3 separate regions of the Homo sapiens genome follow, and regions 1 and 2 are each linked to region 3. The links come from fine-mapping of genetic effects on gene expression. A gene starts in region 3. Each other region holds a variant in brackets. All regions are shown on one strand. Distances are between the middles of the regions. Region 1 holds the start of COL6A6 (collagen type VI alpha 6 chain). Region 2 overlaps COL6A5 (collagen type VI alpha 5 chain). Region 3 holds the start of COL6A5 (collagen type VI alpha 5 chain).

Region 1 (5,231 bases), 170 kb before region 3:
GTCATCTTCACATTAAAGTTTCTAGCTGTCCCAGAGAAAATGTGAAAGTAAACAAGATTATAAAGTTAACTACACATGCTGGCTTAGGATGAGGTAGGGGTACGAAAATATGGTACACAGACCATTTGACATACTGTGGTATTGTTTTATAACAAACAGTAATAGCCAAATATGACTGTGACTTGCTTATGATCTTCAAAGTTCTATTGTATTTGGAAGCATATAATGGAGAATTTTAGTCAGAATTTCTTACCAAACATTAATCAAGTTGTTTTTAACGGACTAAATAAGTGATTAGCTTATGGTTTTTCAAGCCAACACAAATGCCTTTGCCAACTAACTCTGGCAAAATCTTTCCCCTCTAAAGTGTAGGATACAGTACTTAGAGCAATACAAAAATATTTTAGAGTCAAATCAATGTTCACATCCTTAACTGTAAATGGTTTTAAAATGGTTACATGTATATTTATTTGTGCCTTTGTGACTTAAGGAGAATACTGAGGTTTACATTTGCAAGACTAAGTTGGTTTGTATATTCTATTCTTCTTCCCTCCCCTCTACCAGTTGAGCATTTGGGGAAAAATTTTCTCATCATTCCAAAATTAAATGAGTACATCTCCTTAGACTTGTTCTTCGGGACTGTTAAATGCATTAGTTTTTAGGGTTATGTCAGTCAATCAAAATAGCTCATAAAGATAAGATTTAGAGTCAGTAGTGATAGACCAGGTGTTTTAGTAAGACTGAACTTCAGAAGTAGAGACACAAAGATGATACTGCCTCCTTTATCTTGTCCCGAGATTTTTCACGTTAGGAATTTTCCCTGAGATTTTGCATGTTATTGGATTTTCAAAGTGCAACTGCTACAGCTTTACATGAGATGCATAATTTAGCCAGAATTTTGAAATTTTAAGTCCTTCACTTACCAAATATTACTGAATACCTACTAAGTGCTAGGTATTGTGGGAAGCATTAGGGATACAAGAGACACAAAAGATCTTTTCTTCTGTACATGACTTATATTAGCTAATGGTATCTATTTTTATGTGGTAATCTCCTCTAAATTTCCATGCCAAGGCCTTGGGGTCACCTCAAGAAAAAACCAGTTTTGGAAGGAGGGCGAGGAAACAGAAGAGGAATTGAGAATAAGATTCAGTTATTTTTTCATTTAGAAAGGTCGGCCTTTAGTCACTATTTTGTAAAGGATCATTTATGCCTTTTAAATTCCTTTGAAAAACTTAGCGTAGCTTTTGGTAACTGCTTTAAAATTCAGAAAATCTAAATATAATACTCTTCTGCTGAAAGTAGAAAGACATTTTTATTATTGCAAAAGCATTAGCTAAAGAAATTAAAACACTGAGTGCACTTTTAAAAGCCTCCTACCTGCAGGCATAATTTGACCCTCACGGAAAAGTCTCCTCAAATGCTAAAGCCTAAGATATGAAGAAATTTGTAGTAAAAGCAAAACAGCCACAATCCTCAAACATCTCTTCCAGGATAGCAGCATGCCAGAGTGACAGGCCCTAAATGATCTCCATGATCTCTACAAACTAGAACACTTCCAAGGAGATTACAATGTTTGGCGGATCATTCGTTCCTGTTAATCATGTATTACATTCCATGGAAACAAAGTATTTGAGTGAGGTCAGAACACAGGATAAAATTGGGCTCAATAGTAACTAAATTATTGGAAACAATTCTATTTGCCTGATCTAATGATGATGATGGCTTTACCACCACCATCGCCATCACCATTGTCCTCATTTATTGAGCACTTGTGCTTGGCATTTTACGAAGATCTTGTTTTTTTCCCCATACACCCCTGTGAGGTAGGTAGATATCACTGCCCTATGTGACAGGTGACAAGAATAAGACTCAGAGAGGTAACTGCATTGTTTGAGTTTGTCTATAACTTGAATCTAGACCTGTTGGAGAGCAAAGCTAATCTACCTTATACTTTAAATAACGACAATAAGGTCAGGAAAGGAAAAAAAATAATTTTGGCCAACAATCATCCTGGAAAAGTCATGTTCATGAATCTTTTAGAAGCATAAGAAGAAGCATAGAAAATCTAATCTTCCTACTTATTTCTTAGGACTGTAGGAATGAGTATTCTTAGATTACAACACATAATCATTAGTCTGGATCACTTTTATATATTTGCAGGGGGTCTAGCTCACAAACCCATATTTTT[G/T]AGGAATTCCAGGGTCAGCGGATATTTACTGACAGAGAAGTTCTTTTTAGTCATTTTTAAGACCATTGTATTAGTGGGACTTTATAGTGTACTAAGTATAGAGATTATTAAATAAGGCACCAATTTTTATTCATAATTTTTACAACCTGATCTTCATTTGGTGACTTAATTAGATGCTCTTGATACTGTCTATACAAATAAATAAATATTTTCTGCAAAATATTCAAAATACTGAAACTTTCTGAAATTCAGACTATCTGAAGGGAATGGAAAAAATGAAAATTGCAAGTATTTATATTCAACAATAGTATTTCCGGAGAATTGGTTCACAAAAAATTTAGCAAAATTAAATTTTTTAAATTACTAAAATATAAAAGCCAAAGATGATTCTCCAATGAATGCTTAACCTAACATCTTTCATGAACATTATAAAATTTGATTTCACATGGCACAACATCCAAAACACACCTTCTTTTGAGGCACGGTATTTTTTTTCTCCTTCTTTTTCTCTCCTCTGCACTTCTAATATTTTGGAATAAAATGAGGGAGAAATTGCTGTAATCCCAGCACTTTGGGAGGCTGAGGCGGGCGGATCACCTAAGGTCAGGAGTTCGAGACCAACCTGACCAAAATGGAGAAACCCCGTCTCTACTAAAAATACAAAATTAGCCGGGCATGGTGGCTCATGCCTGTAATCCCAGCTACTCGCGAGGCTGAGGCAGGAGAATCGCTTGAACCCGGGAGGCGGAGGTTGCGATGAGCTGAGATGGCGCATTGCACTCCAGCCCCGGCAACAAGAGAGAAACTCCGTCTCAAAAAAAAGGAGAAATTAATTGACAACCTCTTTTATAAAGACAAGAACTATTAAGGCTGTGTATTTTAAAGAACATTATTTAGAAGTTTCAGGATTTTTATGTAAGTGACTTCCTCTATGAAGACACTGAACAATAAATTTAACATTGAACATTTTATATTAAAAATACTACTCATTAAATAGATTAGTTTAGAAAAAGTAACATGACTGCTGAATTCTGTAACTATAGAATTCTTAACAGAAAACTGCTGTTATCCTTCCTGCCACAAGTGTTAGGATTTTTACTGTCTCAGATATTCCTAATCACCGTCACCACCCCTCTCTCCTATCACCCCCACACCCATCCACTGGCAAAAGGTCCTCTTTAAATATATCCATAGAGTAGACTTTTAACAAGAGAATGAGAAATCCTTGTCACAAAAGGACAAAAAAGAAAAGAAAATCACTTCCTAGTTTTAACATTTTTTTTCCTCTTCCAGCCTGCCTCCTCTCCTCTTCAAAATTACTTGCATGGTTGATACTGAGCCAGGTAATTGGGGTTCCGCTCAGAGTAGAATGTTTCTGGGAATTGAGAAAAGGGTGCATTTTCTCTGCTTTCCTTCCTCCCCTCAGACAGCAGTAAAAGTCCAACCCTCTTTAATAAATTTGTGTGAAGTGCAAGAACAAAAGTACAGACTGGGAATGTACAGGCTTGGGAGTGACTTTTCCTGACTCACCCTGATTAACTCCATTCATTTGTTTCCGAGAGTGGTCCACTGTACATGCCACTCGCCAGGCCCTGTGCTGTGAGGACACAGTGTTGGGTGACGCACCTCTCAGGAGGCGCCCTGGTGCGCGGTGGGAGACGCGGAGATGGGAGCAGAGAATGACAAGAGTGTGCTGTAGGTTCTTCAACAGTCGGATGCGAAAAATTAAAAGAAAGACGAGGTGAGGGCAGTTACTCTTGTTTGGAGGAGGAGAAAAGCCAAAGGAGGAGTTTTTGAGCTTCTGAAATTCACTTATTTCCCTCCACCGCAGTCTTTCTCATGCAGCCTCCTCTATTCTGGCCGGTCCCTCCCATCCAACTACTGATCACTTGTAAACCTAGTTTTGGCTCTTGCTGTCCCAGCGTTGGCTCCTGGACTTACCTTGGGGAAACTTCCATGCAGCCCCCAGCCCTGCACTTCGAAAGCCCGGGGCGGATTTCCTCTGGACGCGCACTGCGCGGGCAGGGCGCACCGCGGGGAGCGCAGAGTTTGGTGCCGCCTGCGGCGCGCGGGGAGACGGTGGAGACCTCGGAACCGTGGAACGGACAGGCAGCGGCGTGGGCAGCCTCTTGACTCCGGTGTCCCGCAGGCAAGCGGGTGGCAGCTCCCACGCCCCTCGCCGACATATAAACGCTTCTCCCCGCCCCGGGCCCGACCCTTCCCCGCCCCGGCGGCCCCGGGCCCAGCGCACGTCCCCCAGGAGGGGGGCGCAGCCTTAGGGAGGTGACGGAAGCGGGACTGGAGACATTATGAAGGCTGTTACTGCTCCACCGGCTTCTCCCCTCTTGAAACTCCTACCCTAAGGTCCCGACCGTGGGAGAAAAGAAAGAGGGGAAGTTGGGGCTTTCATGGTACGCGCCTTCTCTGTACCCCAAAGATAGGCAGGGCGTGCAGATCCGAGGCGCACTGAAGGCAGTAGCTCTGCTCCTACCGTTGGAACTGTTGTTCTTTGGCGGCTTTGCCTGTATTCTGGGGTCTTCTGGCAGAAGGCAGGATCTAGCAAGGGAGCCAGAGAGAGTCTTTGGGTTGTAGAAACTCCTCCCTTTTCCGTGGGAACGAAGACCGTGAGATTAAGGTCCAGAGCCACCACCTCATCCCACCCTCAACGCCCCCTACCTCCCCAGTTTCCCTACTCTCTGGTCCGAATTCAGGAGTCCCAAGGAGAATATCCTTGACTCTTTGTCTACTGACCTTTTTCTCTTCTCGCTATCTGTCCATTCACTCATCTATCTATTTTTTGTTGTTGTTGATTCCACAAATATTTGAGCACCTACTATGCACTACTATCAGATGCTTGGGGTAAAAAAAAAACAGCAAAGTCGACACCTTAGCTCACAGTTTGGTTAGGGAGATAGACAAGGAAACAAAAAGCAGTGTGGCAATTGCTGAATGGGGAAATGATGCCATAGGAACCCAGAAGAGGGGATCCCAACTCAACCTTGGAAGGCCAAAAGAAGCTTCTCTGAGGTAATTAAGTCCA
Region 2 (5,231 bases), 44 kb before region 3:
CTCAAATGTGATGTCTCCAGCCTACCAACCCCAATGGTAGCTGGTAATCATCTCAGTTCCCTTCCCTCCCTGTTTCTCTCAGCCAGCTTCCATTACCCTACGTTCAACTCTCATATCCTGCCCTCTGCACAGGTGGCGCTTACCCAGAAAAGCACATCAGGCCACTTGAATTTTGATGCCTCTCTAGAATGCCTATGATCTCATTTAGAGGGCCCTGGATCTTTGAAGGCAAAAGTCTATCCATTTAAACCATGAAACTTTCCGTTTGAGTTTGACCTGAAACTGATGTCCAGTGGCTGCATTGAGAGCATTAACCAAATGGAGCACCATGAGCAGCCATTACTTGGGGTAAGGTGAATATGACCCTAAGAAGAATTCCTTTCTGCCAGAAAAAGGCAACAGAGTAGTAAAATGCCACGGAATGCATCTGGAACTTTCCTGTATAATCTCTTCAGTGCATGCTGTGGTGAGAAGGAAACTTTGGGATCTTGTTCAATCAACCCATTTCTTTTAGAGATGAGAAAACTGATAGCCTGAGCAGAGAAATGTTCAGTCCATAACATCCAGGTAATCGGAGACCTGAGACTTATGATTTACTTTTTGTTTAAACTTTTATTGCTACCCCCATAGAAACTTTAAAAGTAACAACTTACCCTCTGGTGCTTCAGTACACATACGTTCTTGAACAAGTGTGAAAACATCTTTCAGTTTGTCAAAATTATCTACATAGATAGTATTGTTTTTATTCCCTGCCATACCCTCAAGTTCCTTTTGGTTGGCCTTTCCTACACCCACTGCAAAGATGGTGATGCCTTTGTTTCTCAGTTCCAATGCTGTGTCATTGAGCTGATCATGGTCATGGGATTCCCCATCGGTGATGACAATCAGCATCTGCTTCACATTTTGCTTGATGCGGCTGCCATGTTCCTCTGTAAACAGGGCATTTGCGTGCTTGAGAGCCTTGGCAGTGTAGGTGTTCCCTCCAGTGTCCCTGCGCTTCCGCAGATTCTCAATTATTGCTGATCTGTTCGAGTATGTATTAAGGTAGAAAAGGATGTTAGGTTGGTCAGAGTATTTGAGGGCTCCAAACTGAACTCGGTCCCTGCCAACATCTGCTTTCTTCACCAAATGGATAGTTAGGTTAATCATGTGATCTTGATATTGTTTTTTTATGCTACCTGAATGATCCAGCACAAACACAACGTCTAGTAGTGTAATCCTTTTACAATCTGAAAGAAGATGAAAACAGGAGTCACAAACTTTCTGCAGTGCATTCTACGCAGGGTGCTGAGAAGGGAAGCGAACTGGCATTTGCCATGAGCCTACTATGTGTCAGACACTATATCTCACTTAGTTCTTAGAGGTGGCTGCTGCCATTTTACAGAAAAAAAAAGTCAAGGCTCAGAGAAGTGCAACTTGCCTACATCATGACTCCAAAGACATTTGTACCCTATCTATATCACTCCAGGTTTGCTGGTCCTTATGCCACACCACTCTATTTTGATATATCTCATTAGGACATGTAATGTCTTTTGCTAAGCAGGCTTTCAACTGAAAGGCAACGTTAGAAGCTAGTTCCATGCCAATGTAATGGCGAGATATACTGATGTTTGCCAAACTGGCCTGCTATTTCGAAAAGCTCAGGAGCTCACTGTATAAGTTGGTAGTTTTACCCTACTCCCTCTGGCTCCAGGTATCTTTGGACCCTCGGGTATGCAAACCATCCCTGTTTATCATGTCTCTCTGCAGTTATTTATGCTTTTTCCCCTAACCTTTTGAATTAGAACTCAGAAAGAAGTGGCCCCAAGTAGGAGGAGAGCAAAAACTCCTATCACCTTTTCCCTGACCCCAAACCCTCCTCCACATTGTAAGACAAATGACTGTTTTGGCTGGCTTTCCAAAGTGTGGACTCTTTCCCCACTCTTTTCCTTCCCTCAATAACTTATGCACATGTATTCCAAAGATTGGCTTTCTCCACTTTCCACCTGCCTAGCTAATTGTCAACTCTTATTTCTAATAATAAAGTCTCAAATTTTTAATTTTCTGACACTGTGAATGTCCCCAGGCTGTATCTGTAAAAACCTTGGTCAATGACCCACTGAGAACTGGTGACTAGTCATGACCTGATACTTAGGAGACAATCTAATGCATGAGTCAGCTGAATTTCAGGTTATGCTGTAGACAGGGCCTCCACATTTACATTAATCAAAATGAAGAAATGCCAAGAAGAGCCTTGCAGGTTTCAAAGTTGAAGCTATAGCCTTTAGGTACACCTCTCAACATTATCAAGAGTTTTGGAATCACTGCCATCTTTGGGGGAAGAAGAAAATTCCAATTAAGCTGTTACCAAGGAAACTTTAGAACTATCACCTAACA[C/T]TTAAGTGTTTATAAGACATTATGTTAAGTTTCTGAAAATTCCACATGCATAATTTTGACGAATAAAGTCCAATGAAAATCTCTATGTTGCCACAGGAACAACACAAAACAAACTTACTTGGGTTTGTTTTCTTAGTTGTATCCAAAACACAGAAAATAGCACATGATAGATTTAAAAACATAGGTGTTTTAGTCTATGTGTGGATTGAGAGAAAGCTCTCATTCAAAAGACATTAAAATTGATAGGCTCAAACTGAAGGTTGCACAATACAATTTTAAAAGCACTACAATTTGTAAGAATAAAATGATGACCCCAAGTAATCAGAAAAGTGACAAATTACAATTTTTCAAAGGGATGGATACACGAACAGGCAAATATAAAATATCCAGTTGATAGAGGTTAAGAATAATAATGTGAAGTAATGAAAATAAACTATCTTTAAAATACCCAGGGTTTTCTTGGTGGGTGGTGCTTAGGATACTAGATATAATTTAACTAAAAGAAAGACGAATTTGTATTTCTAGTTATTTTCTGCTTAACAATGGTCATAGATAGCCAAGAAACAATTCTAGAAAATCATTTGGGATTAAAAACTGGCTCTGGAAAATCCAGGCATGTGGGTATTAAAGATTTGTAAGTTTAAAGTAAAATTCTGGGATCTTTTTGGAACATATTTGAAGTCACCAATGCCATACTAACTTGTGCCAAACTAGATGCCAAAATTGTTAGTCTGAAACATTCCTGGAGGTCACAGGCATTTTAATATTACATAAAGAAGACCAAAACTTAACACTGAAGTCCAGGTGGAGGTCAGGGCCAGAGTGCCATTCACTGTTTCTCATTATAAAGTCAACAGCTCACATCCTTTAGTCCTGACAGATAACAGGGACACTTACCATGGAGAGCACACACACGAAAGATAAGTTTCCTTTCTAGTGCCTTTAGATGATCGAAGTTCTCAACATGAAAAACTAGGCTGCTATCCCCACTGATCTCTTCTAGCTGAGATCTATTGGCATTGTATACTCCTACAGAGAAGATGGTCACATCTTTGCCCCGAAGAATTCTAGCAGGATCTCTCACATCATCCTGCGCTACTCCATCTGTGATGAGGATGAGAAATTTTTTGGCCCCCAAACGGGCCCCCTTGGAGTGGGTGAAGTATTGACCTACAAAATTTAGTGCCTTTCCAGTTAAAGTGCCTTCATTGATGAGAGACATTCTATCTATTGCATCAGAAATTTCTTGCTGTGTAAAATATCTATTAAGCTGGAACTCTTCCTTAGTTTTATCACTGAACTGAACAACACCAATCTGGGTTTTGTCTGCACCAATTTGAATTTTAGTTAACAGGTTTTTCATGAAGATTTTCATTTTCCTAAAATTTTCATTTCCTATACTCCAAGAACTGTCCACCAGAAACATGATGTCGGCCTTCATGTCTTCACATCCTGCATGTTATAAAAAAAAAGACCAGAAATAACCAGGTTGGAAAGGTTCTCATGAAGTAACATTAAGGCAGAAACAAATGCATTAATGAGAAAACATTGAAAATTAACTCAGGCAACTGTTGTTATGTTTGAAAATTGTATTTGCTTCTTTAGTAGAAGCTGGTTGACTAGAACCTTGAATCAGAAATGCAGCTTCCAAAATGTGTATTTATTCATGCATGCATGCATGCATGCATAACTCATTTATTCATATTTCTTTCATTCATTCAATCATAATTTTGAGTTGTATAAAATGCCAGGCATCCAGCCATGTGTTAAAGATGCAGTAGTGATACAAAAAAGGAACCAGAGCCAAAGCAATCAATTCCTTGCACTCATAGTACTAACACTCCAGGGTTTTATGTATATTCTGGAGAAACACAATTTCAAATAATTTTTAAATAGCATTATTTTCTGGGATAATTCTAAGTGATTTCATAAACACTATAAATCAATATTAGAAATTGGAGAAAAAGTTTTTACTAGAGATAAGTGCTTCAGTAAGCATATACTCATTCAACATGGACTGTTCCTTTATACATAATATTTGTAGACAGCCTACTGATTGGAAATGAACATACAGACATACGTATATATATATATACATATATATACACACATATGTATGTTCATTGTTCTATGTATAATATAGACATATGTACACATATAAAACCAATTTCTATAATCTATTAAAAACAATATTATTAATTCATGATACATATGTTGTGTATATATATAATATGCAAATATATTGTCTTTAGCATGTATCTTTTTAGTCTTAATCCCTTTTGTCTATCTGTAATCTCTGCCATCCTCTTACAGTTTCTCCCTCAACATTCTGAAGTCTATCCCATACTTCTTGAAAATAAACATAGCATCAGCCATATATTAAAAAAATGAAAAGATGTTAACTATTACTTAATAAACGTGTAAGGTCACATTCTGATCCACCAGGAGGACTACACCACCATTTTAAGATTCAAGCTGCCATGGAACCATCTTGAAAGTCATGAGAGGAGAAATTGCTGAAGATGTTTGTGGCCTTGACAGAGTGGCCTTGACCACTGTAGTGAAGTGTGAAAGATTCTCTTCCATGTAACACATATAAAAGAAATAGGCTTCTACATACAGTTTAGTATTCACAGGATCTACTTCCTGGTATCTATTTGTGACAGAAACTACTTAATGTCCCTGAATATCTATCTTTCCATTCTTCTATGTTAATAAAATTTTAGATAGGCAGATGATTGCCCATCTAAAGATTGTATTTCCCAGCCTTCCTTGAAGCTAGCTGTGGCCTTGTGTCTAAGTTTTAACCAAAAGGTATGAGAAAAAAGTGATCTGGCCACTTCTGGGTCTTACCA
Region 3 (5,231 bases):
CCTCAGCAAACTAACACAAGAACAGAAAACCAAACACCGCATGTTGTCACTCATAAGTGGGAGTTGAACAATGAGAACACCTGGACACAGGGAGGGGAACATCACACACCAGGGCCTGTCAGGGAGTTGGGGGAAAGGGAAGGGAGAGCATTAGGACAAATGCCTAATGCATGTGGGGCTTAAAACCTAGATGATGGGTTGATAGGTGCAGTAAACCACCATGGCACATGTATACCTATGTAACAAACCTGCATGTTCAGCACATGTATCTCAGAACTTAAAGTAAAATTAAAAATAAAAAAGAATGGTTCCTTGGAGAATGGCAAGTGGCAATGGTTGTGGGTAGTGAGTTGTGTGCATGTTAGGGAATAGGCCAGAGGAATTTAGGGAAGTATCATAAAGCACCAGGGATTGATGGGGCAACAAAAATGTTTGCAACTGCCACATGCACCACCAGTCAGCCCTTCCTCATAAAGTAGGCATGCATCTCGTTTTATCTTAGATCCCAACTTTGCCCAGTGCCCAACTCCTCTTCCTTTGCACTTTCCACTTGCTCAGTGTGTACTGGATCTGAGATCCTACAAGATTGACAGGGGCATCATCAAAGCAAACTGCAATACCAAGAAAAGTACACATTCCAAGTGAATTTGTGCCCTCCACTCTCAGAGCTGGAGGATTCTGAGTATATGCTCCGGGGTTGAAAATTCTTCCTTTTTGGAAGATGATTTGAACTTGAGGAAGGAAAATCACAACATGAAATACAATGCAAACAAGACATATGTGTCAGCCTTACACTTCATTATAGAAGGATGCTAAGCATATGCTCATTGAATACTTATGAACAATTTCTGCATGTAGCTATGATTCAAGATGGGAAATATTTACAGTGGCAAACTTTATTTTCACAGGCTCATAACATTGCTAGCAATGGCTCCCAATTTTACTGACATTTCCAAAGTTCTTTTCAAACAGAGAGGTGATTAGTTTTTGAAATCTGTGAAAAAGCCTTTTAGATGTTTTAACTTAATATATATATATAAAATAATTAAATATAAAATCATTGTATTGAATGTTTTCTATGCTTTAACATATTAATAATAGTTCAATATCATAACCACACAGGGTCCTCCGGGGAACTACTTTAAGATAATGCTAGCAGGTTCCCTATCAAAACCTTACATCCTGCACCCACCCATTGAAGAAAAGGGAAAACTGAGAAATATCTGCAAATAAATTTGCTCCAGAGTCTCCAAGTAAGTCAGCAGTGGATTTAGATTTCATATTTTAAGTTAAGCCACTGAAAGGAGAATAATAATAACAACACAAAACCATTCATTCGTCATCAAAGATTAATGGCTCAGGTTCTCAGCAGTGATGAAGAGCCTGCCTCATCTGAAGGAGTTATTTAAAAACTTGGGAATTATCTTCTCTACTTTAATTCATATGAAATCTCAGGATTCCTACTTATTCTATTGGTAAATTGTAGCACTGTAAACTTAAATAGAAAAAATGGAAAAAAATCTTGCAGTGTGAATTTTTTCTTAAGGATTTTTGTTCAGAATTCACAAAGTAAATATATATCTTCCAAGATACCTAACCTGACACCCTGAGTTAACAATGATTAATTTCAGAACAAGCAGTTGAATACCAAAAAACAAAATAAATGTGATGTATGAAGCACTACATCAACTTATGAAGATCCTGGTAAGAGAAATAACACGCTACCAGCTTGGGGATCCTGAGAGTACAAAATTCCCTCCAGCACTTTGAAAGAACCTTACCTGGAGACTTGCACACAGTACAAACTCAGAAATAGTTGTTGAAGCTCTGAGTGCTGTTCTTAGGAAATCTCAAAGATCACAGTTTCGTTTGGGACAGAATAGAATTCCCACAAACCAAGAGTGTTTAGAAGTTATTTTTATAACTGAATACACCCCAGTATCTAATGCCTTTGACTCATTACCTACACACCCATTGCTGTTTATTTGGGGGTTCCTGCATTGGGGCTAGGGGCTCAAATGTAGGACTAAGTGACTTCTAAGGCAATGGTTCTCAAACTTTAGCTGCATCAGAATCCCGTGGAGGATTGTTAAAATACACATTCCTTATCCCCATTCCCAGAGATTCTGGTTCAACAGGGTTTTGTGGGGTCCAGGAATTTGCATTTCTAACAAGTTTCAAGGGCAAGGCGATGCTATTAGTCCTTGCATCACACTTCGGATAGCACTGCTCTAAGGTCCTTTCGAATTCTGAGTCTACCTTTCAGAACCTGTCTTAACCATCTGTAAAATTCCTTAGAGCTCAGATTTGGGGGCGTCAACAGGTGCAAATCACCAGAAAGGAGAATCCTTCTCACATCCACCTGTCTACTCGAGGTTTCCTCCCCCGCCTGCCTCAGGCCCCAAGTCCCCGCACCGCATACTTACCCAGCTTTCCCGGGGTCAGGGGACACTCCGGACCCTGGAAACCGCCCCCAACTCTCCAGAAGAGGCTGCACCGAGCTCCTGAGCGCAGTAAACGCGCGCCTCTCGGGCGCCCGCGGCGCAGTTGGATAGAGCGCGCGCCGGAAGCCCTGGTCCGCGCCGCACGCCCTGGTCCGCGCCGCACAGCTGCAGGTGGATTCCCGCAGCGAACGCCTCGTGCCCTGAGAGGGTCTTTTAAGCCGGCGCTGACCCGTGCCCTTGGCCTGGCTCTTCCCTGGGGCTTTTAACTCTTCACAAGTTTTAATGTGAGTGTCCAGAGACGCTCCAGCTGTTTGCTGGCTTTGTTTCAGAGAAGCCGCCGGCTGCCAAATGAACTTAGGGAGTCAGAATTTCTCAGAAACCAAGGGCAATCTTTACTAGCAGCCGAGCTGCGGTCACTTCTACTACTTAGACAGAGGAATCGCCATTTGGCTCCAAGTCCCCCAATTTCTCAGAGGCAGCCTCCCAACGAAAATGCCCAAGGAGGAGCAAAGTCCTGGGGGAAGCCCTACAAGAGAAAAAGTAACGCACCCCTGATGCTAGAGGCAGCAGGAGTTTTATCCAGCAACTTCTAGAAAGGGCAGGATGGGGAAATGGAGCAGGCAACACAATGAAGTTGTGATTTTTAGTACATGGATCATAGTGAAGAACTTGGAAAGCATAGACTATTCTTACATGCATGGCTTATTTTTTGTTGGTTTGCATGGACGTGTACTCAGGTTGAGATTTTATATTACATATCTGTATAACACCTGCCAGTAAATGTACTCCTAGCTTGAGTGGTTAAGTTCAATCAATCCATTGCTTCAGCCTGCTAGCTTCTTCAGGCTGTCTGTGAAGAGATATGTTACAATTACTTACACTGATGAAAGTTTATTAAAATGTCAAGAGGAAACATAAGACATGGGAGCTCACCCTTGCTCAGCAAGAACCCGATTCTGAGATTGCTTCTGAAGTTAACTAGAAAGTTTCTAAATATGTGTTAGAAAGAGTGGGTTGGAAGAATGAAGAGAGGGAAGTGTAATGAGGACTTTCAGGATTTTCTCCTTTTATTATTAAATTTTTTTTTTTCAAAGAGAACACAAATATGTGTAAACCAAAAACTGTTTGTTTTTTTTGTTGTTTTTCATTAATAAGAAAAAACTGATGTAAGTTGAAAATGGTTTTTCTAAAAAAAAAGTGTATTTTATCTATTTTGAATTCACTTGGAATAGTCAGGGTTATGGGGTGTTCTGCACAGAACATCCTGAAATCCTGGATTTGAATGCCAAGACTTGCCCTTCGGTATCAGTGAGTCTCAGATTTGTCCAGGTTTTAACGGAAAATGTTCCATTGGTCACCAGAGTGAAGCACAGAGAGAATCTATGGGCTGGAATATCAAGAAGCTAGAGTCTGGGGGGACAAAATATACATCTATTTCACATTCATGCCTGGCCCAGGCCGAAATTTTGCTACTATGATGTCCACATACCCTCAGTGTGTAAAGATTTATTAATTGAGATGTTCTTCCCCAACCAAGAGTAATGCCCCAAGGGAGAAAGAAGGCCTACTTTATACTTCAGGAGAAGGGTGGGGTTTTGCCTTCACAATTAGGGTAATATCCAAATAGTACTGAAGCCAAAAGGAAGTTGTGGGTTTGTGTTTTGGGGGTTCTTTTGTTGTTTAGAAACTTCTCTAGAAAGTATTATTGTAGAAATTTTTTTACTTGCAATATATTTGTGATTTAACTTTCACAATCATGAAATAAAAGTGGCTCCAGGAATCTACAACTTTTCCACAGATTTTAACATTTCCTTTCCTTTCTTCTGCTTATAAAATTGAAACAAGGTTTTCCCAAAATAAATCATAATGTGAAATTTATTCACTATTTAGAATTGCATTTATTCTATTAAGGATATATTAACTTAATTTACTTCAGAAAGTAGAAGTTTGGAGTTTAATATCTGAAGGAATTCAGGCACTAAAAGTGCCAACTTTTCAATTTTCTAACAGAATAGAACACAATTGAACTTACTTTATCTGACTTGGGTTTCACTTTCCATTTTCTCTAGAAAATAAAAAGATATTGAATAAAAGAAAAGTAATCCAGAATTTCAAAAGTGTGGAAAAGACATTAAATTTTTTTTCAGGCTTCATCATTAGTTATATTTGCCTTTTATTAACCCAACCTTCATAATCTGTATTTCTGCAGCTGTTTTAAATAAGAAGATAACATCAGAGTAAAAGATAGCAAATTCTGCTCTACCCTGCACTCGTTGATTCCCACTGGGAAATATTGATGGTATGTCTGCAAATGTGAAAACCGTACTATCAGAAATAGGCAAGATGATTTTGGATGTGAGATGATTTAAATGGAATATGATTAACTTTCTCATTGATGCAATCAGAACTATTAAAAGATAAAATAGCATTTTTCTTACATGTGACTCAATGTCCTTTGGTCATGCCTATATACCAACAGATAAAAAGTTAACAATTAAAATGCATTATCGATAACTGAAGCCAAATACTTTCCTCTCTGTGTACTAAATAATATTGGAATATAGTATACTTTACTTTCTCTATGTTTAAGCCATGCCGAAAATAAGCAAAAATGACTTAGCTACTTGCTTTAAGAAATACTTGCTCCTAATGGACAAGGCTGTGACTAATCAAAGTGGCTTACTTATCTATATCAACCAGCTTGCTCTAGAAGACTTGTTTCAACTCCTTCATCTCCCCGTGTCCAACAATTTAAAGCTATCATGTCACGAACTCTGCCAAACCCAA

What was found. PIP is the estimated chance that this variant, and not a neighbour inherited with it, causes the effect. A credible set is the group of variants that fine-mapping cannot tell apart.
Region 1: its variant is the best candidate, but not a certain one, in a credible set for the expression of COL6A5 in lung (TOPMed, PIP 0.70).
Region 2: its variant is the best candidate, but not a certain one, in a credible set for the expression of COL6A5 in testis (GTEx, PIP 0.75).

The regions. Positions count from the first base shown.
Region 1 is chr3:130,516,299-130,521,529 of GRCh38, reverse strand. COL6A6 (collagen type VI alpha 6 chain) reads right to left here and starts at 4,353. Exons shown (of 37, transcript NM_001102608.3): 1 at 4,133-4,353. The variant G/T (reference allele first, on the strand shown) is at 2,192.
Region 2 is chr3:130,387,177-130,392,407 of GRCh38, reverse strand. COL6A5 (collagen type VI alpha 5 chain) reads right to left here. Exons shown (of 41, transcript NM_001278298.2): 6 at 3,274-3,828; 7 at 654-1,229. Among named protein-coding and RNA genes, the nearest start is that of COL6A5, 44 kb to the right of the region's middle. The variant C/T (reference allele first, on the strand shown) is at 2,377.
Region 3 is chr3:130,343,177-130,348,407 of GRCh38, reverse strand. COL6A5 (collagen type VI alpha 5 chain) reads right to left here and starts at 2,736. Exons shown (of 41, transcript NM_001278298.2): 1 at 2,427-2,736.